Linked DNA regions of Homo sapiens. The protein of the gene in region 1 purifies or fractionates together with the protein of each later gene. This does not show direct contact. Each region holds a gene or a part of one and is shown on either strand. Other genes may lie near its edges.

Region 1 (7,025 bases):
GGGATTCTAAAAGGCTGCATCTCCCACCTCCTGAGCCCAGAGCCCTTGGTTGAGCAAGGGTCTAACCAAAGCTGTTGTAGAGGGAGAGGACATGGGGGCATCAGCAAGCCCAAACTGAATAGTGACCATGACCTGCCCAGTCCCAGCTGCCACCCAAGGACACTCAGGCCCACCACTGCAAAGGCCTCCTGAGCCACAAGTCCTCTAGGGAGGTAGGTGGGTAGAGGACAGCAAACAAGACTGATTCTTCCAGGAGGACCATGCTGTCGGAAGTTAGGGACAAGCCAGCACAGAAAACACTGAGGGCCTAGTCCTGCGAGTGGTGGTCAGCAGTGTACAGAAGCGGGGGAGAGGCGGGGGACACTCCAGGCTGGGTCCCTGAGACACATCAGGCCCAGGGTGACTGGTCCTGGGCTGGGCTACCCTGCCCTCCTACTCCCCACCATCCTTCCCAGATAAACGTACAAATAAACTCTACCTCAACTGCAACATCTAACTTCAAGGTATTAAGGACAACTCTCACATAGGGGCCTCATACTGAGCTCACGCGGAGTCTTCCTTTATCCACATCATCTCCTGTTCCTAACCAGGTGAGCTGTGAGCTCCATTTACAAGTGAGGCCAGCACCTTGTCCTGCTAGTAAGTGGCTGAGATGGGACTGAATCCATGAGGTCTGATCCCCAGGCGCATGCTGAGCTGCCTTTTTACCCTCCATCAGCTCCTGGCTGCTGAAAGTGTTTTCCCACCACTGTTTCCTATAATCCTCACGAGTCCCAGGTGGCAGAGCCTGCTCTCATCCCCTTGGAGGGGAGCACAGCAGGTGATGCGTTAACCTGCTCTGGGTCTTACAGCTCGCCTGTGGCTGAGTCCTAATGTGGGAACACATTGGGGGCTCAGGGTTCAGAGCACGCTCCCCTGTGTTCCCTGACTGACTCCCCACAGCAAAGGATAGGGAGGGAGTCTGTGTCAGTAGAGAGAAAGCCCCACTGCCCAGCCCATCTGCACCTAACTCCAGCTGCCCCCAACCCCAGTCCATTCCTGCTGAGCCCTGGGATGCCACCATCTTACTGCAGCCCTGCAGAGACTAGTGAGCATCTGCTCTCTAAGGTGGGTGTGAACACCCAGATCTCTCAGCTGACCAGGATGGCCCTCCTGCCTTGGACTTGATCTTAGCCGGGAGCTTCTCTCTACCCCAGTGCCCACCACCAGCAGGACCAGGATGGCAGGAAGGCTCATTGAGGCTGCCTGCCGCCCAGCTTCAAAGATGCCGGTAAAGTGCCCTCCAGAGGCTGAGGTTCCAAGGGACACTGGTGGTGCAAGCAGCACAAACGCAGGAACAAGGATGGCTAAGACTGCTAAGCGCTCACAGTAGCGGGAGGGGGTTCCACAGGGTCCACAGGGACCTCAACGAGTCCCTAGAGCAGCCCTTTGTTATAGGCATATATCATGGCTGCTTCCCTTTTGCAGAGGAGGAAACTGAAGCTCAGAGGTTAAGTGACCTGCCCAAGATGTCAGTGACTGTATTTGATTCAGGAGACCGTGCTCTTGACCTTCTGACTTCTCCGTCTCTGCGCAGCAGAGTACAAACAGCTCAGCAACCCACAGCTGCCACCCTCACTGCCTTCCAGAGTCTGCGTGTCAAGGGTGCGACACCTGTAATCCCAGCACTTTGGGAGGCCGGGGCTGGAGGATTTCTTGAGCCCAAGAGATCGAGACCAGCCTGGGGAACGTAGGGGGACTCATCTCTACAAAAAATTTAAAAATTAGCCAGTTGTAGTGGCACATGCCTGAGGTCCTAGCTATGCAGGAGGCTGAGGTGAGAGGATAGCTTGAGTCAGGGAGGTCAAGGCTGCAGTGAGCCATGATCGTGCCACTGCACGCCAGCCTTGGCGACAGAGTAAGACCTTATCTCAAAAAAAAAAAAAAAAAAAAAAAAAAAAGAGAGAGTGTGACAAAGGCTGACTGACAGAATCCTGACTCCTGATTCTAGCCTACGTCTTCCTCAGCTCAGCCCAGCCCAGCGCAACCCAGCTTTGTCCTGACATCGGTGGGTGGAGTGGGGGGGAGGTGCTAAAAGTGCACCCACCCATTTTCTTTTGCAATCCTGTAAGCGAATTCCATTTCTCTTCATTTCCTGCAAAGAAGGTACTTCCGAGCCAGCATCTCCCACAGTATTAAAAGCAGAAGTTGTTGATGGGTTCAAATCCTAGCTCCTCTCCTCATAGACCAGGGACCTTGGGAAAGACATACCTCCCAGAGGAGATAAACTGGAACTGGCTTTTTACATAAATGTCCTTAATTTAAAATGTTGGCAACTGAGTCAGAATTTTTACAACACTTTGAAAGGGCCAAACTAAACACATCTGTGGGCCAGAATCAGCTGGTGAGAATAAATAAGAACAGTGTAAAGCCCTCAGCACAGTGGCTAGAGATCCATATGGGTGCCAGATAGTAATACCATGGCAGCCTTGGACCAGGTCGGAAAGTCCTGGAGGAGGGGCTCCTAAAAAAGAGGCAGTGACCCTATACAGTAAGGAAGGTGCCCTCGAAAGGACTCCTTGACTGCCCAGAGACCAACAGGTGACAGCATGCAGACCTACACCCCGCACCAAGCCAATTCCCCATCTAACCCTGTCCTCCACAAAACACCCCAGAGTGCCTAGGGATTATTCTGGGTCAGGGCTGTCCCATGGGAGGCTATTATTAAGGGAGCAGATTTTGTGGTGGCTTAATTGTTATAACAACTAGGCTTGAGAAGGAAGCCACTGTTTTGTGAGTGCAGCTTCTTTCCTTTAAACCAAGTCTTCCAAAGGCCTCCTTGCTCCAGCGAGCTCCCACTGTCACAGTGGCTAATGAGGCCTGGGACCGCACTATGTCAGCTTTTTGCCCCATGGATCACCCTCCTCGCAACCTCAGCAAGAGGGACAGGGAGGACTCCTTTCCCAAAGCTGAAATCCAGGACTGCAAACACACTTGGGGGGTGGAGGTGCTTAGATGTGATCTTGGCCTCTGGTTTTTCCTTTCCACTGGCTTCCCCCATCTCCCCCAAAGCAAGGTCTGCTGTGGGAGAAGATTTCAGTGTCACAAGGCACTTGCTTTCGAGGACAGAAAGTGCTCCCGAAATCCTACCTATAAAGGAGACTTTAGGAAAGAAAAGATCTCATTTTCCTGCCATTTGCACTAGTCTATTGGCACCTCTCATGCAACCCCCAGCATGGAGACACAGGTAGGAAGCTCTCCTTCAAAGTGTGGGTGTCGTAGAGTCCCCTCAATGAAGCAAAAGCCCACAGCCTCTCTGTATCCTCGGCCCCACCAAGTCCACTAGGCTTTGCCTCCAGAACACACCCACTTTCTTCCTACTATCACCACACTGGTCCAAGCCAATCTCATCTCTTGCCTGAACCACTTGTTCATCTCCCAGCTTCCAGTATCAATTCACCCATGTCCAGGCTCCACACAGCTGCCAGAGTGATGTTTAAAAAGCATAAATCAGTCGGGGTGCGGTGACTCACACCTGTAATCCCAGCACTTATGGAGGCCAAAGCAGGTGGCTCACTTGAGCTTAGGAGTTCAAGATCAGTCTGGGCAACATGGCAAATCCCCGACTCTATGAAAAATACAAAAGTTAGCTGGGCATGGTGGCGTGTGCCTGTGGTCCCAGCTGCTGAAGGGGCTGAAGTGGGAGGCCAGGAGGTTGAGGTTGCAGTGAGCTGTGATTATGCTACTGCACTCCAGCCTGGGTGACAGAGTGACACCCTGTCTCAAAAAAAAAAAAAAAAAAAAAAAAAAAAAAGCCAGGCACGGTGGCTCATCCTTATATTCCCAGCACTTTGGGAGACCAAAGTGGGTGGATCACTTGAGAGGTCAGGAATTCGAGACCAGCCTGGCTAATGTGGTGAAACCCCGTCTCTACTAAAAATACAAAAATTAGCCAGGCTTAGTGGCGGAAGCCTGTAATCTCAGCTACTCTGGAGGCTGAGGCAAGAGAATTGCTTGAACCTGGGAGACAGAGGTTGCAGTGAGCCGAGATTGTGCCATTGCCCTCCAGCCTGGACAACAGAGTGGGACTCTGTCTCAAAAAAAAAAAGGTATAAATCAGAAGCTGGACATGGTGATATGCACCTGTAGTTCCAGCTACTTGGGAGGTAGAGGCAGGAGGATCACTTGGGCCCAGGAGTTCAAGGCAAGCCCGGGCAACACAGCAAGACCCCATCTCTAAAAAAAATTAGAACAAAATAAAAATTTTAAAAGGCATAAATCAGATCATATCATGCCCCTAAGAAAATCTTTCAAAGGCTTCATAGATCAAAAGACAAAGCCTAAGCTCCTGACCACAAGACCCTACACAATCTGGCCCCTGCCACCTGGACAGCTTCATACTGACCACTATCCCCTTCCTCACCACCTTCTAGCCATGCTGGGCTCCTTTCATTCCTTTGAACAAGCCAAATATTCCATACTTCGAGCCCTGTGCACACGCTGTACTCCACTCTGTTTGGAATATTCTTCTATGTGGTCTATGCATGTCTGACTTTTCAACCTTCAGGTTTAAGCTTCAGTGTGGCCCATGTCAGTCTATGCTCATCACACTATCTGAAGAAATTCACCACCCAGTGTCCACGGAATACCCATCCCAGCTGTGCTTGTTGAGCTACTTGTTGCATGTCGTTCTCCTTGGGAATGTATATTCCATGAAGAGTAAGGAGCATTCCATTTAGACTCCAGCCAGAACCCCAGTGACATACTAGGGAGTGCTGAGTGTGCTCTCGCTCCCTCCCCCAAGAAGTGTCGGGACCACACAGTCCAGCTGGCCTGCCTGTGGCTTGCAGGAACAAACACCCTGGCCCAAGATTTCGCCCTTGTTTTCACAGCCTGCCTTCCCCGTCTTAACCTCACACATTTTCCAGGAGGCTTTATTTGGTTGGGCTCCTGGCTAATGATCAATGTCAACTCAGTAATAGGGCAGCAATTTGGTGGCAGATGTTTTCTTGGCAGCACTAGTGGTTGGCCTTAGTGAGGGCCTCAGGTCTGGACTTAAAACACCAATGCCCAATGCCAGCCCCCTTTAAAGACCTCTCTGCAAATAAACTCAAATAAACACCCTGGGCCTCCATTAACGCCCTTCCAGCTGACCCTGGGAACAGTGGGCCTTTCAGGCCTGCCACTGCAGCCACTCCCTGGGCAGTTAAAACACCCCAACCTGGCCTCCAGCCTCTCCTCTCCAGGGGCCACTAGGCCTGGCCTGCCTGCCACCACACAGCAGGATTTCGTCCTCTTCTTTAAAAAAAGGGGAAAAAAGGGCTTTCAAGCAGGCAATTTACCATTCCAGACACAATCTTTCAAAGAGAAACAAAAACTCTCCCTGTCTGAGGCAGACCGCTAAGGCGTGTGTGTAATAAGATGCTAATACAATTTAATGATATTTCGGCTGGAAAACCTGTCCTCAGAGCCTCCTTGTGTTGGGAAGGCCAGACATTCAGAAAACAAGAGCTGCACACTCTTAAACCGCTTTAAACCGGGGTCACAGCCCCACTCTTTCCTATCTCTCATTAACTTTAATGCCTTCTCAGGGACAGTAATTGCAGTTACAAAAATGATTTTGTATACAGAGTAGAGGGCTGCTGCCTGGGATCCTCCAGTCGGCTTCCTGGACCTGCTTCTCCAAGTCTAGAGGAGCCTGAACCCTCCTGCAACACCAGCCATTGCCTGTCTGCAACTTCAAGTGTCCCAGAGGGGACTCAGCTCCCCTTGAAGACGCTGCCACACCCACCCTCCAGACCAGTTCTGGGGACGTACCAAGGGGATGGTGGGAGAATGAAAAGGCTCTGTCTACTTTGTTCTTCAGAACCTTCTCACCCTACTCTTTGCCCCAGAGAGGGCAGAGCTCCGTCTACTCGCTCCCATATCGGCTGCCTATTGGCACCTGCAGGATCCTTCTGATCCCTTCTGCAGAGAAGCGAGCTGGCTCTCTGGCCTAGCCTAAAGGTGAGAGATCAAAGGTCCAAGCTGCATCGGGGACCCTCCCCAGGTATAATAAGGATGACTAATACTAATCACGTGCTTATCACATGCCTGCTTTGGGCTTAGTCTTTTTTAGGTAATCACTTATTCTATACATCCACTATGAGATAGGTACTGTTATTAATCCCATTTGCAGAAAGTGCTCCTTGTAACAGAAGGAACTGAGGTATAGAGCCATTATGACAGTTGGTAACTGCACAGCCAGGATTCAAACCTAGGCTGTCTGACTCCAGAAGGTGTACCCCATCTCCAGTGGGCTGAAGTGTACAGGCCTACAAGTTCCAGGGTATGGGTATTCTAGATTCCTATGGGCTGTCTGAAAGGAGCTTTGAGCAGACCTACAATTGTAAGCTTTTGAGCCACATGGTAAGGGTCCTATCTGGAGGACAGGGCAAGCCAGGGGTATCCTGCTCCCCAACTCTGACCTGTTCTCCCCATCAGAGAACCTAAAGGGAGAACTGTGAGGTCCCAAAAAGCCTGCTGCATGTGCCATGAAGAATTTGGACTAGAAGCCTCTTACCTGTGTCATGAGCATAAGACAACTGCCTTCCTGTTAAGAGGAACACTAGGTTAGAGCCAGAACACCCTGCCTCCCAACCTCAAGGATGTGGGGGTCAGTGTCCAGGGCCTATACAGTGTCAATACTCCGTGGTGCATCTAGGACCTGGGGACTGGCAGTCCCACCTCACCAGTCCATGAAAGCTAAGTGGAGATTTCTGACAACCTCTTGGACCACTGTTACTGGCCCTTTAGCCAGGCAATTTAGGGAAAGGAAAAGCATTTTGGACGGGAAAACATTCTGGAAACATTTGCTGCATCCTGAGCCCAAACAACTCTATCCTTAAACACTTCATCTCCAAAAGTGATGGGGGGACCCTTGGCCAAACAATTTCAAAACCAATATTCACTGCAAGTCCTGCTGCCTGGGGCGAGGACTTCCCTCTGTGAGGCATTTGCTGCAGAACCAAATGCTTTTCCACTCAAAACAACAGCCAACAGCACTT
Region 2 (7,025 bases), on another chromosome or scaffold:
ATGGGGTCTCACTCTGTTGGTCCAGGCCGGAGTGCTGTGGCGTGATCTCCACTCACCACAACCTCTGCCTCCCGGGTTCAAGTGATTCTCCTGCCTCAGCCTCCTGAGTAGCTGGGACTACAGGCGCGTACTACCATGCCTAGCTAATTTTTGTACTTTTAGTAGAGAAGGGGTTTCACCATGCTGGCCAGGCTGGTTTCGAACTCCTGACCTTGTGATCCACCCGCCTCAGCCTCCCAAAGTGCTGGGATTACAGGCGTGAGCCACCGCGCCCGGCCAGTAACATATTTCTTAGGATCTACTCAACCTTGAGAATACCAGTGAGCAATCCACCTCCCACTGTACATTGCATATAGAGAAGACACTGAGCCCTAAGCCCAACACAGTTCCCCTTCCTTGTGTCCAGCTCCTAATTTCTCACCTGTGTAATATGACCACACCTCCCCAGTCTGGACTGTTCCTGAGGCTATGGGCAATGTGCACAGCCAGGTCTCTGAGCAGATTCAGGTTATTCTGAAATGGATATGGTAACTCAGTAGATAAATGGAAAGGATAACAATAGAGAGTATCAGCTTCCCTCCACCTCATTCTCCCCTCACTCCCACTTTGACAAACTACACATCTGTTTAGGCAGAAGACCAAGTCTGCAGAGCCTATCCTAGGCAGGGCCCATGCCCTCTCTACCCTCCATGGAATAAATCACCTTCTGCAGGATCTTGGTGGAGTTCTGGAGCTTTTTCACTGCTTCCACATGATCCTCTGCTCCACACCTGAAAGAGAAAGGTCAGAGGAGACCTGCGCAGCTTCCCAGTCGTTTCTGATGTTGGGGACATAAATCAATAATTTCCTTCTTGCTATGGTGCCTCCCTGCAGTCAGGGACCAGGAGATATTCTGAGGAGGTCTCTTAGGCAACTGGGAGAAAACATACAAAGGAATTAACCACTTTTCGTGGTTCTGATTTACTATCCAAAGCACTTGATCTTTTTTTTTTTTTTTTTTTTGAGACAGAGTCTTGCTCTATCGCCCAGGCTGGAGTGCAGTGGAACGATCTTGGCTCACTGCAAGCTCCACCTCCCGGGTTCACGCCATTCTCCTGCCTCAGCCTCTCGAGTAGCTGGGACTACAGGCGCCCACCACCATGCCTGGCTAAGTTCTTTTTGTATTTTTAGTAGAGACGGGGTTTCACGGTGTTAGCCAGGAAGGTCTTGATCTCCTGACCTCGTGATCCGCCCACCTCGGCCTCCCAAAGTGCTGGGATTACAGATGTGGGCCACCACGCCTGGCCGCACTTTATCATTTACGATTGCATCTTATCTCCCAGAGGTAAGAGATTATGTCGAAAATCTCAGAAATGGGAGGTAATCGAAGGTACTGAAACAGGCATACTTAAGCAGAGCAGTCAGTGCTTTTTCAGTTCCATGACTTCTCTCCATCCACTTCAGCACCCGGTTCCCAGACAGAAATATCAGGTTGGTTCTGTTCTTTTTCCCCTTCTCAGTGCCCAGAATCTTAATGACCTACATGAGGCAAGGGGGTAACACACACACACACGTGTGCACATGCATAAACCACAGCGGATCCTAGAACCTGAAGGCAGGAGAAACCTATCTGTTCCTCAGCTCTGAAACAGTGAAGGGGAGATTTCACTTAGGACTCCTCGATTATCCCCCTCTCCCACTCCCAGCCCCATGTGATCCCCTCTCCCCCAATCCCTCTTCTCAGCCACTCCACAGCCGTTCCTCACTTACCTGAAGGTCACTGAGATTGCTCACATGGGTCCCACAGCACATGTTGGAATCAACGCCCTCGATGTTAACAACCCGAATGGGCCCAGCATGATCATCAGGCAAACCCCGGCCACTCACCTGGACTCAAGGAGAGGGGAGGGACTGTCTGAATCTGATGAGGAATCATTCCGCAGAAACCATCCCTCTGGCTCTACCCTTACCTGCTCCACCTCAGGATCATCCAGGCTCAGTTCTCGGACATTCACAGGCAGCCGATCTCTGATTTTTTCATTGACGCTCTGCTCAATGGCAGCTACTTGCTCTGCAGTCATAGAGGGGGTGTCCAGCTCAATCGCACTCCGAAATCTCCCTAACTCCCTGTCAGAAGTACAGTGGCCACAGATAACATATCTTACTGAACAAGAAAAAGCTGAAAGCTTTTCCTCTAAAAACTGGAACAAGCATACCCTCTCACCACTTTTTTTTTTTTTTTTTTTTTTTTTGAGACGGAGTCTCGCTCTGTCGCCCAGGCTGGAGTGCAGTGGCGCGATCTCGGCTCACTGCAAGCTCCGCCTCCCGGGTTCACGCCATTCACCTGCCTCAGCCTCCCGAGTAGCTGGGACTACAGGCGCCCGCCACCACGCCCGGCTAATTTTTTGTATTTTTAGTAGAGACGGGGTTTCACCGTGTTAGCCAGGATGGTCTCGATCTCCTGACCTCGTGATCCGCCCGCCTCGGCCTCCCAAAGTGCTGGGATTACAAGCGTGAGCCACTGCGCCTGGCCTTTTTTTTTTTTTTTTTTAAGACAAGCTCGCTGTCACCCATGCTGCCATTTGGTGGCAATCACAGCTCACCACAGCCTTAATCTCCCCGGCTCAAGCAATTCTCCCACCTCCGCCTCCCTCCCAGTGCTGGGATGGGCCTGCCTACAGTTAGTCTTATGCCTCCCACTCACCATGATGTTGTCTTCAGCTTAAATAGATGGTCAGCAACTGCCGTGATGAGATGCTGCCCTAAGCAAAGAGAGCCAGAGACAGGAGAAAAGTGAGAAGCCTACATACTCCCACAATGATAAAATATGAGCTACAATGATAAAAGCACAGAAATTCTCCTTGTTGAAGACCTGCTAAGCACTGGGTAATACACTTTAGATACTTTATTGAAAATCACAATGAGAATTCTGCAAGAGGCCTTATGATACCATTTCACAGATGAGGAAACTGAAGCCTAGAGAGATCAAATAACTTGCCATGGCAATGTAACTTATAAGGGGCTGGACTTGAACTTAACTTCCTTTTTTTTTTTTTTTTTTTTTTTTTGAGACAGTCTCATTCTGTTGCCCAGGCTGGAGTGCAGGGGCTCACTGCAGCCTCCGCCTCCCAGGATCAAGCAATTCTCGTGCCTCAGCCTCCTGAGTTGCTGGGATTATAGACGTGCATCACCGTGCCCGGCTAATTTTTCTACTTTTAGTAGAGATGGGGTTTCACCACGTTGGCCAAGCTGGTCTTGAACTCTTGACCTCAAGTGATCCACCTGCCTTGGCCTCCCAAAATGCTGGGATTACAGGTGTGAGCCACTGTGCCCAGTGAACTTAAGTTCCAATATGCAGCATTCATCCATTCAACAAGTATTTATTGAGTACCTACCAAATGCAAGGCACAGGGCTTGACATAAGAGATACAGCAGCATCCCTGATTGACAAGAGTGATGATGAGGAGAAAGAAGAGGAAGAGGAGGAGGAAGAAAAGGAGAAAGAGGAGGAACTATCAAGGAAGAGGGAACAAGACAGCCAAAGGCCTTAAGGAAGAAAGAAGTAGCGCATGTCAAAGGAATCCAGAGATGACAAGCAAGGCCAGGATGCAGCCAGCAAGAGGTCAAGGGACACCAGATGAGGCTACAGCAGTAGACAAGAGCCACCCAGATACAGCTTGTATGCCATGGTAAAAAGTTTGGCTTTACACGAAGACCTACAGGAAGCCTCTGAAGAGCTTTAAGCAGAGGAGTGACATAATATTTTCATTTTTTAAAATTTATTTCAGTCAGGCGCGGTGGCTCACTCCTGTAATCCCAGCACTTTGAGAGGCCAAGGCAAGTGGATCATGAGGTCAAGAGTTTGAGACCAGCCTGAAACAACGTGGTGAAACCTCGTCTCTACTAAAAATACAAAAATTAGCCGGGTGTGGTGGCATGCACCTGTAATCCCAGCTACTCAGGAGGCTGAGTTGCTTGAATCCCAGGGGTGGAAGTTGCAGTGAGCCAAGATTGCACCACGGCACTCCAGCCTGGGCAACAAAGTGAGACTCTGTCTCAAAAAAAAATAAAAATAACAAATAAAATTAAATAAAATTTATTTCATTTTACATATTTATTTTTATTTATTTTTGTATTTATTTATTTATTTATTTTGAGATGGAGTATCGCTCTGTCACCCAGGCTGGAGTGCAGTGGTGCAATCTCAGCTCACTGCAACCTCTGCCTCTCGGGTTCAAGCGATTCTCCTGCCTCAGCCTCCCAAGTAGCTGGGATTACAGGTGCACGCCACCATGCCTAATTTTTGTACTTTTAGTAGAGTCAGGGTTTCACCATGTTGACCAGGTTGGTCTCAAACTCCTGACCTCAGGTGATCTGCCCACCTCAGCTTCCCAAAGTGCCTGGGATTACAGGCATGAGCCACCACGCTCAGTCTGTTTTTATTTTTCTTGTTTACATTTCCACTTTAACTTATATTTATTTATGCCAGGTGCGGTGGCTCAAGCCTGTAATCCCAGCACTTTGGGAGGCCGAGGCGAGCAGATCACAAGGTCAGGAGTTCAAGACCAGCCTGGCCAACATGGTGAACCCCCATCTCTACTAAAAATACAAAAATTAGCCGGATGTGGTGGTGCGTGCCCGTAATCCCAGCTACTCAGGAGGCTGAGGCAGGAGAATCACCCGAACCCAGTAGGCAGAGGTTGCAGTGAGCCAAGACTGCACCACTGCACTCCAGCCTGGGTGACAGAGCGAGACTTTGTCTCAAAAAAAAAAAAAAAAAAAAAAAGTTATATTTACTTTTTTGAGACGGAGTCTTGCTCTGTTGCCCAGGCTGGCGTGCAGTGGTGCCATCTCAGCTCACTGCCACCTCTGGCTCCTGGGTTCAAGCAATTCTGCCTCAGCCTCCTGAGTGGCTGGGACTACAGGCATGCACCACCACGCCCAGCTAATTTTTGTGTTTTTAGTAGAGACAGGGTTTCACAATGTTGGCCAGGCTGGTCTCGAACTCCTGGCCTCAAATGCCTGACCTCATGATCTGTCCGACTTGGCCTCCCAAAATGCTGGGATTACAGGCGTGAGCCATCGCGAGCAGCCTACATTTATTTTCTGAGACAGGGTTTCACTATCTTGCTCAGGCTGGTATGGAATTCCTAGCCTCAAGCGATCTTCCCGTGTCAGCCTCCCAGAGTGCTAGGACTACAGCAGTGAGCCACAGTGCCCAGCCATTTCTCTTTTCTTTTTTTTTTTTTGAGATGGAGTCTCGCTCTGTCGCCAGGCTGGAGTGCAGTGGCGCGATCTCGGCTCACTGCAACCTCCACCTCCCAGGTTAAAGCGATTCTCCTGTGTCAGCCTCCTGAGCAGCTAGGACTACAGGCGCGCATCACCATGCCTGGCTAATTTTTGTATTTTTAGTAGAGACAGGGTTTCATCATGTTGGCCAGGATGGTCTCGATCTCTTAACTTCATGATCTGCCCACCTCGGTCTCCCAAAGTGCTGGGATTACAGGCGTGAGCCACCGCACCTGGCTGCCATATTTTCATTTTTAAGATTGTTCAGCTGGGCGCAGTGGCTCCCGCCTGTAATCTCAGCACATTGAGAAGCCGAGGCGGGCGGATCACGAGGTCTGGAGTTCGAGACCAGCCTGGCCAACATGGTGAAACACCGTCTCTACTAAAAATACAAAAATTAGCCAGGCATGGTGGCACGCACCTGTTATCCCAGCTACTCGGGAGGCCAAGGCAAGAGGATCACTTGAGCCCGGGAGGTGAGGTTGCAGTGAGCCGAGATCATGCCATTGCACTCCAGCCTGGGCGACAGAGCGAGACTCCAACTCAAAAAAAAAAAGACTGTTCTGGTGCTATGTGGAGAATGGGCTACAGAGGAGCCAGACTGAATGTGGGGCAATCAATTAGGAAACTGTTAGAGAGGTCCAGGGGGAAGACAGCTAGGAGCTGGGACTAGGATGACAGTGACTGTGGAAAGAAGTGGACAGACATTTAGAAAACAAACCAACATGCTGGGGGGGTGTGGCTCATGCCTGTACTTTGCGGGGTCAAGGCAGGCGGATCATCTGAGGTCAGGAGTTCAAGACCAGCCTGACCAATATGGTGAAACACCGTCTCTATTAAAAATACAAAATTAGCTGGGCATGGTGGTGGGGGCCTATAATCCCAGCTACTCGGGAGGCTGAGGCAGGAGAATCGCTTGAACCCGAGAGGCAGAGGTTGCAGTGAGCCGAGATCGCACCATTGCACTCCAGCCTGGGTGACAGAGCGAAACTCTGTGTCAAAAAAAAAAAAAAAAAAGAAAAGAAACCAACAGGACTCAGTGATTGGCTGGCTGTCTATGCCTGAAGAGGTATCTGGAATGACTTCCAGAACTTGAGTGACTAGGTGCATGCTGATGCCCTGCGATGAACACACAGGATGCTAATGAAAGACCAGGAGGGAGGGGAAGGCTTTTTGTTTCATTTTGGACATTTTGAGTTTGAAAAGGCTGTGAGACATCCAGATGGAGATATCGAGTGGGAAGTTGATAATACCTAAATCCAGCAGTTATTCTAATACTTTTTTTTACTTCAGTTGTTCATGTTGCTGTTATAACATTTAGGATATCCTTCCTGAATTACAGCTGATTCTGAATAGTCTGTCTTTTCCAAAAGGTTAACTCCTAGAGAACCCAAACTACGTCTCAGTCATCACAGCATCCCCATACATGGCAACTGCTCCGGTGTTATGTCCCCCATCCCAGCCTTTACCTGAATGCTGCTGCATGTGGTCAAACCTCCGCTCCCAATCTACCCGGACCAGAACCTGGCTTCCTGGATCCAGGGGTGTCTGGGTGAAATGATCAGCCTGTTCCCCACGGCGAGTCACTCTCAGCACAGAGATGTCATTGATTGTACCACGGTCATCAGGCTGGTGGAAATAAGTAAACGTAATCAATGGCAAGGCAGGGCTCACCCTAACTTCTAGGTACAAAGACCCTCTAGGGTGAGAGACCCAGAATCTGGGCTCCCTAAGGGAGAGGGAGAAAGCAATGCCAA
Region 3 (7,025 bases), on another chromosome or scaffold:
CATCATCTTCTCAACTCCCGGCAGAGAGGAGACCCTGGGGTGGGCACCTTTTCTCTGCAACTGGCAGGTGGTTGTCTCCCCAAGTCTGGCTGAGTTCAGGCTTTTATAGGTCTCAGCAGGGAGGGTGTGTGTACTGATTGGTTCATTGACAACCATGGGTGAGCCTGGAGAAAGCACCACAAGTTCCCACTCTGGTCATCGGGTGCCAATGGAAAGCCTGGTCCCCAGGCTTCAGGCCTTCCCTGGCTTGAAGGTGGGGTTTCACCAGGGACCTGCCTCCTTTTGCCCAGGAGCCTGCCTGCCTCCTCCTGCTGTTCATGGTGCCCAGGCTGTTTGTGACAGGGGGTGCCTACAGGTACTGAGCTGCCCTCAGTACCCCCTCAGCCTCCCTCTAGTGTTTGTAGGCACCCAAAGTTTAGAGGGGGCCAAGGTGGCAGGGGGCTGGTGTATCAGTGCTATCTGGAGCGTGTGCACACTTGGCCAGGCTGTGACAGTGCCCAGTCTCGGACCCAACCTTTCTCTGAGATTGGAGTGGGTGCTGGGAGTGAGGAGAGGCCAGGCAGTGGGAGCAAACACCTCTGAGCCTGCAGGGACTGGGCGGGGGGCCTTCCTGGGCCTCTGAGAGTGCAGACATGCCTGGGTCTGCAGCTGCAGCTTGGGCGGCTGCAGCTGTGCCTGGGAGGGTGGGGCTCCTGCCTGCTCCCATCCCCCAAGAGCACAGTGATGCCTGGGTCTGCAGCCCACCTGGGCAGGTGGCCGCAGCTGCACCTAGGGAGCACGAAACTCCTGCCCTGTCAACTCAGAAGGTGGCAGGGTTCCCACCTGTTCCTGGCTTCTGCTGCCTCCATGGAGCACGCAGTCCTGGCTGCACCTCCCCCACTGCAGCTGGTATCATGGCAGTGGCCGCTATAGATGGGCCGCTGCTGCCATCGGTGGCATGCACTTACAGTCCCAGCTACTCGGGAGACTGAGGCAGGAGGATCACTTGAGTCCAGAAGGTTGAGGCTGCAGTGAGCCATGATTGTGCCATTGTACTCCAGCCTGCATGACAGAGACAGACCCTGGCTCTATAAAACAAAAACAAATACAAAAACAAAACAAAACAACAACAAAATAAAGTGAGTTAATGGAAAAGGAGCTGTAGGAGTGAGTCAGAAAAAGAGCAAGACTATCAGGAAGACTACAAGAAAAATAACTATGTGAGTACACTTTCAAGAACTAGAAATTGGCTGCTTTAGTCATGCCATAGTGTGGTGTGTTAAAATGAAGAATGAGGAAAGACCTTTGGATTACCAACTCTGTGGAATTTTGTGACTTCTCCGGAGCATTGTCAAGTAGCTTGCTATGTGGGAAGAGTGGTAAGGGAGTAGAAAGTGAGTTCCCAAATATTTGGGAATATGGTGATTTTCAAATACTATTTTCTGGACCAGCAATAACAGAATTACCTGCATTTCCTCAACTCATAACTATTGTTGAGCCTGGTAATGTACATTTAAAAAAAAATTTTGTTTGTTTGTTTGTTTATTTATTTATTTATTTATTTAGAGACGGAGTCTTGCTCTGTCACCCAGGCTGGAGTGCAGTGGCATGATCTTGGCTCACTGCAAGCTCTGCCTCCAGGGTCCACGCCATTCTCCTGCCTCAGCCTCCGGAGTAGCTGGGGCTGCAGGTGCCCACCACCATGCCTGGCTAATTTTTGTATTTTCAGTAGAGATGGGGTTTCACCATGTTAGCCAGGATGGTCCTGATCTCCTGACCTCGTGATCTATCCGCCTCGGCCTCCCAAAGTGCTGGGATTACAGGTGTGAGCCACCGCACCCGGCTGGTAATGTACGTTTTGAAAAAGCTCCCCAGATGATTTTGATGAAAGCTCATGTCTCGGATTTGCAAGTACAGATTTTCCAAGCTGTTTAGTAAGGACTGGCTTGTGATCAAGATGGATTTCTGAGTGGTATTTTGAGACAAACCCTCCTTTTTGTAAAAAAAAAAACAAAACAAAAAAACCCACAAAGCAGTAATTGATAAAATAACAAAGATAAAACCAAACTGACAAAACTAGGACTCAAAAAAGGTAAACACTTCTGTTTCAGGAAGGAGCAGGTGTGATTTTGGCTGCTTTGAAGTAATGGGGAAGTGTAATTAGAGTTGGGCTTATTGTTGGAAACAGTGGTCCAAGATAGGACTCCTGTTAAAAAAGATGTTTCTAAGTTTACTTCCAGGGCTGCCATATTATACAACTTTAGGGATTAGATTGTAGTTACTTAGTACAGTGGTCTTTAACCTTTTTGGCACCAGGGACTGGTTTCATAGATGAAAATTTTTCCACAGATGGGGTAGTAGGGGATGGTTTTGGGATGAAACTATTCTGCCTCAGATCATCAGGTATTAGATGATTAGTTAGATTCTCTGGCATTAGTTAGATTCTCATAAGGAGCATGCAGTTTAGATCCCTTGCATATGCAGTTCACAATAGTGCTTAATGCTTCTATGACAATCTCATGCTGCTGACGATCTGACAGGAGGCAGAGCCCAGGCAGTAATGCTTACTTGCCTGCTGCTCATCTTCTGCTGTGCGGCCCAGTTTCTGACAGGCCATGGACTGGCACTGGTCCATGGCCCAGAGGTTGGGGACCCCTTAACTTAGTACATCTCCTGGAGTGGTACAGGTCACAGCCTCCCTGGCTGTAAGAAGATTTGCTGCTGACTGCTGCCAGATGCCATAGCGTATATGAAGCAAACACTTAGGGATTCAGGAAAGCAAACATAGCTATACAACTAGGAACCTGGTAACTCAGAGTATATCCTCACTGTTATTGCAGAGCAGAATCTCCAGCTAGACTATCTGTAAGAAAAATATTTATGAGATAACTGAGGAAATTTGGAAATTTGAATATCAATTGATCATTTAATACCAAAATTTTTAATTTTTAAAAATATATTTATGATACTGTAGTTCTCTTAAAAAAGTAGTAAACATGTTCTCAGTAAGTGTTTGTATGAAAAACAAAAGAAGTTCCATCAAAAGTGCACTTGTAAAGCTAAATTCTCAAATATATGAACTCATCTCATGCTAAGGAAGATATGAAATAACCATAAGAGCAGTTCCGTCTGGATGACATTTCAGTGTTAGTCTGAAAAATATTAAATTACATACTGAGGGTTTTCAAAAAGAAAAGGAGTAATAGCCCTTAAGTATAAATAATTTTGAAATGTAAATCGGCGGAAAAAAGATGAGGTGGATTTGAAAATGACAAAAACTTTAGAAGTGAAAAATATAGTTGTAATTTTTAAAAGCCAACAGCATGGTGTTCATGAATGAGAAGAGTCAATTAGATGTCAGTTCTGTCCAATATTAATCTGTAAAGTCAATGCAGTATTAAAATCTGAAAAGGTTTTTTTTCACGATAGTAAACATGCAAACTTAAACATTTTTATGGTAGTGTAAATAGCCAAGGTAAAATTTGTAAAGAACAACACATTAAGGTAATGTGCCCTTCAGATACCAAAATTTATTATAGGACTGTAGTAATTAACAGAGGTTCAGGGGTGGAAAAATAGACCTATGGAACAGACTATAGAGCCCAGAACAGATTGATAGGTACAGATCCATAGATGGAATCTATTTTCAGTATGCTATGAGATAGGACTGTTAATTTTCTTCACTCCAACTCAGATTAGCAATTGAACCAGTACCACAGTGAATAGTTTGTCCTTTCCTCACTAGTTTATTTCTTTTTTAATTTTTTTTTTTTTTGAGACAGTCTCATTCTGTCACCCAGGCTGGAGTGTAGGGGTGCGACCTCAGCTCACTGTAACCTCTGCCTCCCGGGTTCAAGTGATTCTCCTGCCTCAGGCCCCTGAGTAGCTGGGATTACAGGGACGTGCCACCATGCCTGGCTAATTTTGTATTTTTAGTACAGACAGGGTTTCACCATGTTGGCCAGGCTGATCTCGAACTCCTGACCTCAGGTGATCCGCCCGCCTTGGCTTCCCAAAGTGTTGAGATTACAGATATGAGCCACCACTCCTGGCCTATATGGCTGGGTTTTTTTTATATGTTTTGTATTAATCTCTGTGTTTGAAAGACCATCTAGGCAAACAGGAAAAAATAGTTTCTTGATTAGAAGACTTTGACAAATATGTAGTAGTATGAGAGGATAGATAGTACCCTGGGCAACATGGTGAAACCCCATCTCTACTAAAAATACAAAAATTAGCCAGGCAAGGTGGCGCACACCTGTAGTCCCAGCCAGGTTGAGGTGAGAGGATCACCTGAGCCCGGGTGATGGAGGGTGCAGTGAGCCAAGATCATGCCGCTGTACTCTAGCCTGGGTGACAGAACAAGACCCTGTCTCAAAAAAAAAAAAAAAAAAAAAGGAAGTAACTGAAAGTATTTCTTCTTATTATTTTTTTAATAGCACATCATCCTTATATGTTAAAGGATGAAATAAATAAGGTAAATATTGATGACACATGAGAGTAGTTTTTTGGGGGCATATAACTAACTAATGAAGATAAGAAACAGGTTTTATCAGCCCTGGAAAGTGTGTGGGGCATATTTTCTCAGTAGAAGACAGGAATGGAATAAGATAGATGAGGTAAAGATAGGAATAAATTTTGAGTTGGAGAAGCCATTTGAAGGAAATCACTATTTTCTCAGTGAGGTATAAAAGTTGAAATCATTCTTCTAGAAGTGTAATATACTGTATACGAGGTTCGAGAAGATGGGAAGAAAATGCAGAATACTTGTAAGGAATGCAATAAATAAGGTTAGGTAAAAAGATATAATGGTAGCATTGAAGGAAAAAGGGAAGCTGAATAAAATTTGTAGTGGTGCCTAGTTGTATAATTGTGTTAAATTTGCCTAGCAAGTCAGGGGCAGGATTCTTTTGTCACTCTTGCCAAACTCCCTTCTCCTTCCCACCTTGTGGGAGGGAGTGAGTCAGAGCCTAGAATTCCTTGAAAATATATGTCTATCTCCTTAGTTGGTTTCTCTCATCATTTTCTTGGTTTTATGTAATTTCTATGTTTATCTATCTTCTTGCTGTTTTTAACAAATTTTACAAAATTTTTGCTCCATTGTTGGGATGCTTTCTTGTTTTTGCTTTATCCTTAAGAAATTTTGGGTACAGGGCAATTAGATTTGCATGGTTATTCTGTCTTAATCCAGTCTTTGTTAAGTATAAGGAAAGAACTTGGTTCTAATCCCAAGTTCCTTACAAACATTTGAGACAGCAGGGGAAAAATAATTTTTCTTTGTACTCTTTGGATTTTTGTATAATAAAACATTGAAATATATGTTTTTTTTGGCAAGTTACTATTTTAGAAAGTGCCTAGATTTGGACAGTGAAACTTAATATTATGTGGTCTCAATGAAACTGTTGCTGTGCTAAGACAAGAGTTAGTATTTTGTGTTTTAGAAGATGTAATCAACATGCTTGTTAAGCTTTTCTTTCTTGAGCATCAGAAAGCAATGTGTATTTACTTCTAAATATTTTGCATCTTTTATGTTACAGTTATTTTACCAAGAAAATGGTTTGCACGACTTTGAACATATACTATCCATGCTGATGGGACAGGATCCAATATGAATATAAATGATGGAGGAAGACGACGCTTTGAAGATAATGAACATACATTACGGATATATCCTGGGGCTATTTCAGAAGGGACAATCTACTGTCCGATTCCTGCCAGAAAAAACTCCACAGCTGCTGAGGTGATTGAGTCTCTTATAAACAAACTTCATCTTGACAAAACAAAATGTTATGTTCTAGCAGAGGTAAAGGAATTTGGTGGAGAAGAATGGATTCTCAATCCAACAGATTGTCCAGTTCAGCGAATGATGCTGTGGCCCCGAATGGCTCTGGAAAATCGCTTAAGTGGAGAGGACTACCGCTTCCTTCTGAGAGAGAAAAACCTTGATGGATCAATCCATTATGGTAGCCTGCAGTCATGGCTACGGGTAACAGAAGAACGTCGCAGGATGATGGAACGGGGTTTTCTTCCACAGCCTCAACAGAAAGACTTTGATGATTTATGTAGTTTACCTGATTTGAATGAGAAAACTCTCTTAGAAAACCTACGAAATCGCTTTAAGCATGAAAAAATTTATACCTATGTTGGCAGTATTCTAATAGTTATTAACCCATTCAAGTTTCTTCCTATTTATAACCCCAAATATGTCAAAATGTATGATAACCACCAACTGGGAAAACTTGAGCCCCACATTTATGCTGTGGCTGATGTAGCTTATCATGCCATGCTTCAGCGCAAAAAGAATCAGTGCATCGTGATTTCAGGAGAGAGTGGTTCTGGGAAGACTCAAAGCACAAACTTTCTTATTCACCACCTTACTGCTCTCAGTCAGAAAGGATTTGCCAGTGGAGTAGAACAGATTATTCTTGGAGCTGGACCAGTACTTGAGGTAAATATATAGAAATCTTATTTTTGATTTTAATTTTGATTTTTATCCTTTGAGGTGGGGGGGTGTACCATTCCTGGAGGTACTGCAATACCAGGTCGATGTGTGGAGTAGATCAAGCAAGATACTGTTCCATCTCCCAGCTCCAAAAACTCATTTAGGGCTGGGCGCAATGGCTCATGCCTGTAATCCCAGCACTTTGGGAGGCCTAGGTGGGTGGATCACCTGAGGTCAGGAGTTCCAGACCAGCCTGACCAACATGGAGAAACCTGTCTCTACTAAAAATACAAAAAAAATTAGCCAGGCGTGGTGGTGCATGCCTGTAATCCTAGCTACTCGGGAGGCTGAGGCAGGAGAATTGTTTGAACCTGGGAGGCAGAGGTTGTGGTGAGCTGAGATCATGCCATTGCACTCTAGCCTGGGCAACAAGAGCGAAAATCCATCTCAAAAAAAAAAAAAATTGTCTTTGGATAGAAGACATTTCAGATATTAAACTATAAAAACATAACTGTACTTGATCTTAGCCAAAAGGCTGAGAAGCTATAGAAATACTGTTCTTGCTATTCTGGGCACACTGCCTGCAGCGTAGCCCTGCTCTACA
Region 4 (7,025 bases), on another chromosome or scaffold:
ATTTGGTTTTCCTTTTTCTTCTTTCTCCATATGTATACTTTAACCAGGTAAAGAAACTGTATGATTCATTAATCCTGAAACACTTTATTTCCCCTTACTCTAACACAAACAAACAAAGCAATCATATTTAAGAAAATTAACTTACCTAGTGTATTTTCCTTAGAGGCATCTGACGTAAGGGTGGATAGAAGAGCTTCAGATTTAAATTTCTTTTCAGGAATATGATCTGTTGTCGTATGGTGAGAAGTTGGATTATATTTCCTTTCTAAATATAAATAAAAAATTCATGTGTTTTTAAACTTTAGAGAACTATGGACAAGGCATAATACTTATATCCAGTTAAAATGTGAAACAGTATGATCTGGGTTCCTCATAAAATACAGAACATGATGTTTCCTCAGAAGGCAGGACAAGCAGAACTCTGTGTCACATGTTTATTAAGAGTAGACTTCTCCACCATTTAAAAAACTTCTAGCAAAGTACTAAAGATAACCCAAGATACACCATGGGCTCACATACAATGTGAGGGAAATTTTGTTTTCAAAACACAATCTACCACTTAAAATAGTTTCCCACCAAATTGATGTGTCAAAAGATGTACTGATATAGTCATTTTTTGACTGTTACCAACCAGCCAGCCAGTCATCTAACTAACAATTCATCCACTCACTGACTTACCAACCATTCAGACTTAATTATATGCCAAACATTAGGTTAAGCACTGGAGAAGCAAGGATGAAAAAGACAAAGGGCCTATTACAAAATAGCTTATTGTTTGGCTCAGTTGAAAAGCTCCCTAAGGAGAATGCTCAGTTGAAAAGCTCCCTAAGGAGAATCAGGTATGTGTATGAAGGGAATATATGCTATTAGTACTATACATTCTCCTTCTACGCATTTAAGAGAAAACAGAATACTCATTTCCGAATCACATATGCTCCCCCCAAGGAAAAAGACAAGTCTGCCAGTACTTGCAATGAAAAAAAAAGAAGGGATTTATTTCTCAATTGGTTGTGTAGAGTTAAAAAAAGAGAACATATAGGTGATATAATAAGGTTTTCATTGTTTTTAAAACTTAGCTGCACTACACCAAACTTACTTTCCACTGGAGTATGTGAATGAGCATGGTGATTGTTCACTGGCTGTGAAGGAGTGTCTAATTCCAAAGATCCTAAAAGAAGAGAGGCACAGAGATACACCACCATTAAATGTCACCGCAGAACTTCACATGTCACTCAACTACAGGCAATGAGTTCCCTTACCCAGCAGAGGACTAGCAAGTTCTGATGCATATGCCTGTATTTATTTTAGCCAGACATGTTAGAGGATCACCACTGTCCATCCCACACTGAGTTATCCTCTCTCTAAACAATAAGTTATCCTTTTCCCAATATTAATCTTAAGTACAAAATGGCTCAAGGCATACTCGTGTCTAATTAGGGAATTCACCATAGTGGGTGCCATATAAATGGATGAATGGACATTGTAATCTCATTACTGGTAAGAGTCAACCTAGTTTTACTGAGTTGAAGACCTTTTAATGGGAGATTCTGAAGTTCTACGTGATGGGGGACATTACTATATGAAAAAAATTATTTGATCATTAAAATGACATTATGATAATAAAGACTTCCTAAAAGAAGTTAGGGATTTTGTTCGCAAAAAGTGAGGAATAGAATCTCTAACACCAAGCTTTAAAATACCTCTAAATACATTTTTCTGGGTTTATTTTTGATCCCTTGAGATGAAATTATGGCAGGGCACAGGGTGGAGCAGTTTTTATAACTTGATCCAATTTTGTTTCATATGTCTGTGTCCTTAGAGAGGATGCTTTATTAACCTTCCTGCAGTACTGAATAGGCATGAATTATCATTACTCACAGCTATCATCAGCATTTTTAAAAAATCAAAGCAGATACAGAATTTTTAATTTTGTCTCAAAATACTTATTATCTTTATATAGGGTTCCTCCAGAAGAAAAGTATCACAAATAAATAGGATGATTATCTAAAGTGATGGATCTACTTTTGAACACAAAAATGCAACTATGGATACCAAGACAGATCTGTGATTGGCTTCCCTAGCTGACTTCTAGTGAGTAGAGAGATACATAGATTGGCACTGTAAAGAAATCTTTCATCTGTGTGTAGAAACAGGTACATATTCTTACTGTTGAAATGCACCAAGAAAAAGAAGGTTTGTAAGTTTTAATTAAATTCTAGTAGAAATTAGCCATAATATTAATTTGGTTCAATTAACATCTAGTGAGTGCCTACTCTACACCTAGTACCACACTAACTGCTTTTATGTACATTACCTATTTAGGTTGAAGAAATGCTAAATTAGTTAAGGAAACAGTGCTCATGCTTCCATTTTTGGGAAGTCACACCAAAGAAGTGACAGGGGTAAGTTATAGCAGGAGATCAAATAGAGCCTTGCAAAGAAATATCAAAATGGTTTCTTGCTGCTAAGGGAAAGAAGAAAACACTTCTTTAAGAAAAAGAGGTAGTGTTATGAAACCAATGTGAGTCTTTTTCAGTATATGCAGTTAAGGAAAAGCCATAAAGTAATTCTTAAGAAGAGAAACTAACAACTTTCCTCAAAGCTTAAGTGTATAAAGAGGCAGAGTAAAGTCAACACACTTAATGCAAGATGGTTAATTTGTCTCCCGATGGTTACATTTCTTTAAATTTGTTCTTACCACTCAACTTACTAGTATATGTGGATATAAAATGATTTAATATGTTGTTTCATAAAGAGTGAGTGGATGATATCCTATATTATCTCTCTCAGTATGCATGACCCAAACATTTCCAACTGTTAGGGTCCAAGCTATCTGGCCTGGATGCCACCATCCATTGAAGGGCAGGATTTCAAAAGCCTCTGTGGGACAAGGTCTTCTCAGCGATTTGCACATGTACTGTCCAATATTGATGGAAAACTGTAAATTTTACTTACGCCTCTCTAATATTTCTGTAATTCCAGCATTATCAGCTTCCAGCTCCATTTTAAACTTAGCCAGTTCCTGATCCAGCTTTCTCAAGTGTCGATCTACCTGTTTCAAAGAAGATCAAAGATAACCACCAAAATTTGGGACACTGTTAAAGTGTCAGCTTAATGAGGAAACCTAAATTTTTGTTTCTTTTAGTGAATCTGCTTAGTATCCTTGAGCAAGTCAATTAATCTATGCCTCAGAGGTTTTTAATCTATAAAATGAGGGTGTTAGGCTAAATAATCTCCCAAGTCTCCTTCAATAAATTTTAAGTTCTAAGACCCAGACTCTCAACTTGTTAGGAAATGTTCTATACTCCATTTTCAGAAGTCAGGACATGAAAATTAAAGCAAAACTGATTAGGGATTAGAGAATGGGAGGAGGGGATGGTGGAGGCTGGTCACTTTTCATAATATGCCCTGTGATTACTTAGAGCCTAATCTCCTCCTGCTTATAAGGCCATCATCCACACTGTCATACGATAAAAGCTATTATTTAGAATGATGAAAGATCCTCAGTCTACAAAGAAGTTCCTATATTCTATACATCTATTACTCTAAGGCATGAGAGTGAATCATAATGCTTGTAAACATTTATGTGAAGAGGTGAAACAAAAGGGATTGTTAGCCAGAAAACTCCATTCCTCAAAGGATCTGGTTAAAATTATTTTATTTATAATACTATTTCCCTAGTTAACTTGGCAAAATTTTATTTTGTCACTGAGAGATCTTTTGACTAATTTCAGAAAATTATATGACACTTCAAACTAACAAAAAATGTCTTAATGTATTTTTTAAACTTAATATTAAATATTTTAATATTTTTTCAAACTCATTACTTTGAAGTGAAACCAAAAAATACACAAATTCTTTGAAAAATATTCATGTCACATTATTGATAACATCCTTTTCTAAGTCTAGTTTCCCACTGGATTACTGCTAGAATTAGAAATAACTTTCTTACAGATATCAACATGTGCTATGATACTCTACCAGGGCAACATTTTAAGTAAGGTTTAGAATTAAATAATGTGTAACTAACATGAGGAAGAAGGGGAGAAAGGTAGCAAAACACAATGTGCATGGGTTAGATGCCTATGAAGAGGAGGTAATGTGCTTGACGCATCAGATGACCTATCTTTTCTAGCCCTCGATCTGATCTTTTGAAGTTATTACTGTCTCTACTTTATAGGTGAAGAAATTAAGGCTCGGAAGGGTTACTTAAGTAATATGCCCAAGGTCATATAGCTAATGCATTACAGAAACCAAATTTAACTTTATTTGTAACAAATTCTGCTTTGCCATTTACCTGACATTGACCTCTGAACTTTCTGCATGCAGAAAACAACTGTTTTTTTTTTGAAAAACATTCTTCAGAATAATATAACTCAAGTATAAAAACTAGTAATATTGTCCTATTATTTGTATTTTATATATTAACAACAATCATTAGGGTGTTGGTTTGTGATTTTTTCAAAAACTGAAAGCCAGTTTTCCTTCTACCTTTACACACACATTACTTTTCAGAGTTCTAGAATATTTAAAAACCTATAACATCACATATTATGGATACTTGCTCCTATTCAAAGAATCTGCAGGTAATTGAGCATCCTTTAATGGAACTTCCTTTCCAATAATAGTGTGAACACAGACGTCTGTTATTTGAGCATACCTCTTTCATTGTCAAAATTTAATCTCAAGGGAAATCAGAAAAAATATTCATATTTAAGTTCCAAGACCACTAATGCAACGAAAACACTCCATTGCTTTTTGTACCTACAATTATACTAATAATAAATATTGAGCTATTACGTGCTTGGTGCTGGATTAAATGGAGGATATATGAAGAATGGAAGAGAATCATTGCCTTCATAGGAATTAGAATTTAGCTGACAAATCAAGATTTATATATGATTTTTAATATAATAAGGGATAAAAATATAGTCTAGATGTCACAAATAAGCAACAGTTCAAAAAGAGTCAGAAGTTGTACATAAAAAAGTAACACTGGTAGACACGAAGGAGGTACGAATTAAGACGGTGAAGATGGATTGTATTCAAATAGAAGGAAAAAAGGAATCACAATAAAAAATGTAGAGACAGAAAGACAAACAGTATGCTTAGAGAAAAACAAAGTATGATGTAGCGTGTAATATGTATATAAAGCACAGTGAGCAAGAATGTTAGGTTGAGGGGGTAGTGTTAGGGTGAGATAAAGACCTTTCTTTTTCATACCATACACCTTGCCCTAACTCACTTCACCTCTGCATTTAAGGATTGTTTCATTTTATTAAATATATTATTGATAAAGTTCACTACATATGAAAATGTTAAAAATAATGACAAGACTTTCAATACTAGATAGCTCAGAAAAGGCACTAGAACCTAAAGGGTTAATAACTCTAAAAACCAAATTCATAGTTAAAATAAACAAAGACAGAAAAGCCTTAACCACTTGTGGTAGGCATCTTTATAAGACGGCTTCCAATCATTCTTACTTCCTCATATGTAAAAGAGATTATGACCTGATTAATATTATAAGCAATTATTAGGCAATGAGCATTATTTTTCTTCTATTTACTACTGCTGTACTAAATCAAATTAGAAGTTGGAAAGTCCCATTGACCACAAGAATTAACTTAAGCTATAAAGCACTAGGATATTTAAACAATATTAAACAGCCATAATAAGAGCTGTGAACTTGCCTGAAATCCATCATGTGCATTCCCTCAACCTACATGATTCTGAACGGTTACAGCACCTCTTCTAGCTGATCACCATGTTGTCCCCACAGGCATCAAGCAAAGCAAGGATGTAAGTTACCTCACCCTTCCACAAACATCTGCTTTCATAAGACTGATTTACAATAGTAAAGAGGGTACTGATCCAATTGAGAGATTTTCCATTAGCCACAGATTCCTAAAACAGGGCTAACCACAGAGTCTAATTATTTCTTTTTTTCCCAGTTAATGTCAACAAGTGCTATAAACAAAGTTTCCTTGCCCTATAATCCCAAATCATATTCTACAACCCCAAATCATAACAGCTTTAAGTTTAAACTCCTATAATTTTTCTAGCCTCTTTAAAGACAAAGGATATTCTACCAACATTACTTGTTAACACACTCATGATCATAGCAAATTTAAGTCATACTTGGCCCCTCTGCACAAAACAAACAAAAAATCCTTCATCCTATAATATTTGCATAGAGTTGTAATCTTTGACTCTTTCTTTTTTGACTCTCTGGTTTTCTAATATTCACATTTAAAGTGTATCACTAATGGACCCAAACAAAACTAAATACAGCTTTTTTAAAGTCTCTACATGATCTACTGCTTCCAATACAATCAATTTATAAAATTTAGATGTCTAGCTTGCCCTATCGGAAGAGGCAATCAAGTCTGTTACATTCTAAGTTGAAATAGACAGCAGTAAGTTAAATTTCTAACCATGAAAAGGTCTAGTAATAGCGAGTAAAGAGGGTAAATTGGGGAAGAAGAAGAAACCATGATAGCAAAGTATTTCTCAGATAACAGGTCATGAAAATGATTCTTTATATCTCTAAATTAGATTTAAACTAGATGAAAATGTGACCTATTGTTATGCTGAAACAAATACTTGAGAGGCCTTAGCATATAACTCTGTCTAATCATCTTCCTGAAAGACAATAAGGACAGGACAGAAATCAAAAGGTCAAACTCACATATTTCCTTAATTAGAGTATCAGATGAAAACTCTCAAATTTATAGGTAAAATGTGCATCTGAAATATAACCATCTCAGGAACAGGCCAGGATATAAAAAAAGAAGCAAGTTCAAGGGTATTGAGCACTGCAAGAGACTGCTAAAATCATTCAAGCATTAACTAAAAGCTCAAATTTTATCAGGGTATGTATAAATCAACTTTATTAGGTATTGCAATCCAATACATCCTTATGACAGTGACATCTGGCTGAGAAACACAAATAAGTATTTAACAACTATTTATGAGTATCATGCTTCTAGAACAAAACTATTTTAACAGGATAGATTTTTGTG

What was found.
Region 2: the proteins of JADE2 (region 1) and AARSD1 purify together in Homo sapiens (affinity purification with mass spectrometry, with the first as the bait; 3 studies listed by BioGRID). This does not show direct contact.
Region 3: the proteins of JADE2 (region 1) and MYO9A purify together in Homo sapiens (affinity purification with mass spectrometry; 3 studies listed by BioGRID and IntAct, with this or other methods). This does not show direct contact.
Region 4: the proteins of JADE2 (region 1) and ING3 purify together in Homo sapiens (affinity purification with mass spectrometry; 4 studies listed by BioGRID and IntAct, with this or other methods). This does not show direct contact.

What each region holds. Positions count from the first base shown.
Region 1 is NC_000005.10:134,528,652-134,535,676, reverse strand, and holds part of JADE2 (E3 ubiquitin-protein ligase Jade-2), read right to left. Parts: intron 3,794-7,025; exon of another isoform or gene 2,132-3,793; coding exon of another isoform or gene 2,087-2,131; intron 1-2,086. UniProt on the Homo sapiens protein: Scaffold subunit of some HBO1 complexes, which have a histone H4 acetyltransferase activity. Acts as an E3 ubiquitin-protein ligase mediating the ubiquitination and subsequent proteasomal degradation of target protein histone demethylase KDM1A.
Region 2 is NC_000017.11:42,954,455-42,961,479, forward strand, and holds part of AARSD1 (alanyl-tRNA editing protein Aarsd1), read right to left. Parts: intron 6,898-7,025; coding exon 6,738-6,897; intron 2,742-6,737; coding exon 2,684-2,741; intron 2,107-2,683; coding exon 1,950-2,106; intron 1,867-1,949; coding exon 1,750-1,866; intron 1,519-1,749; coding exon 1,388-1,518; intron 771-1,387; coding exon 704-770; intron 514-703; coding exon 422-513; intron 1-421. Other genes in the region: PTGES3L-AARSD1 protein, read right to left, coding at 422-513, 704-770, 1,388-1,518, 1,750-1,866, 1,950-2,106, 2,684-2,741, 6,738-6,897. UniProt on the Homo sapiens protein: Functions in trans to edit the amino acid moiety from incorrectly charged tRNA(Ala).
Region 3 is NC_000015.10:72,045,126-72,052,150, reverse strand, and holds part of MYO9A (unconventional myosin-IXa), read left to right. Parts: intron 1-5,516; 5' UTR 5,517-5,587; coding exon 5,588-6,427; intron 6,428-7,025. UniProt on the Homo sapiens protein: Myosins are actin-based motor molecules with ATPase activity. Unconventional myosins serve in intracellular movements. Regulates Rho by stimulating it's GTPase activity in neurons.
Region 4 is NC_000007.14:120,960,769-120,967,793, reverse strand, and holds part of ING3 (inhibitor of growth protein 3), read right to left. Parts: intron 3,053-7,025; coding exon 2,956-3,052; intron 2,539-2,955; exon of another isoform or gene 2,323-2,538; intron 2,092-2,322; exon of another isoform or gene 1,961-2,091; intron 1,169-1,960; coding exon 1,097-1,168; intron 266-1,096; coding exon 146-265; intron 1-145. UniProt on the Homo sapiens protein: Component of the NuA4 histone acetyltransferase (HAT) complex which is involved in transcriptional activation of select genes principally by acetylation of nucleosomal histones H4 and H2A.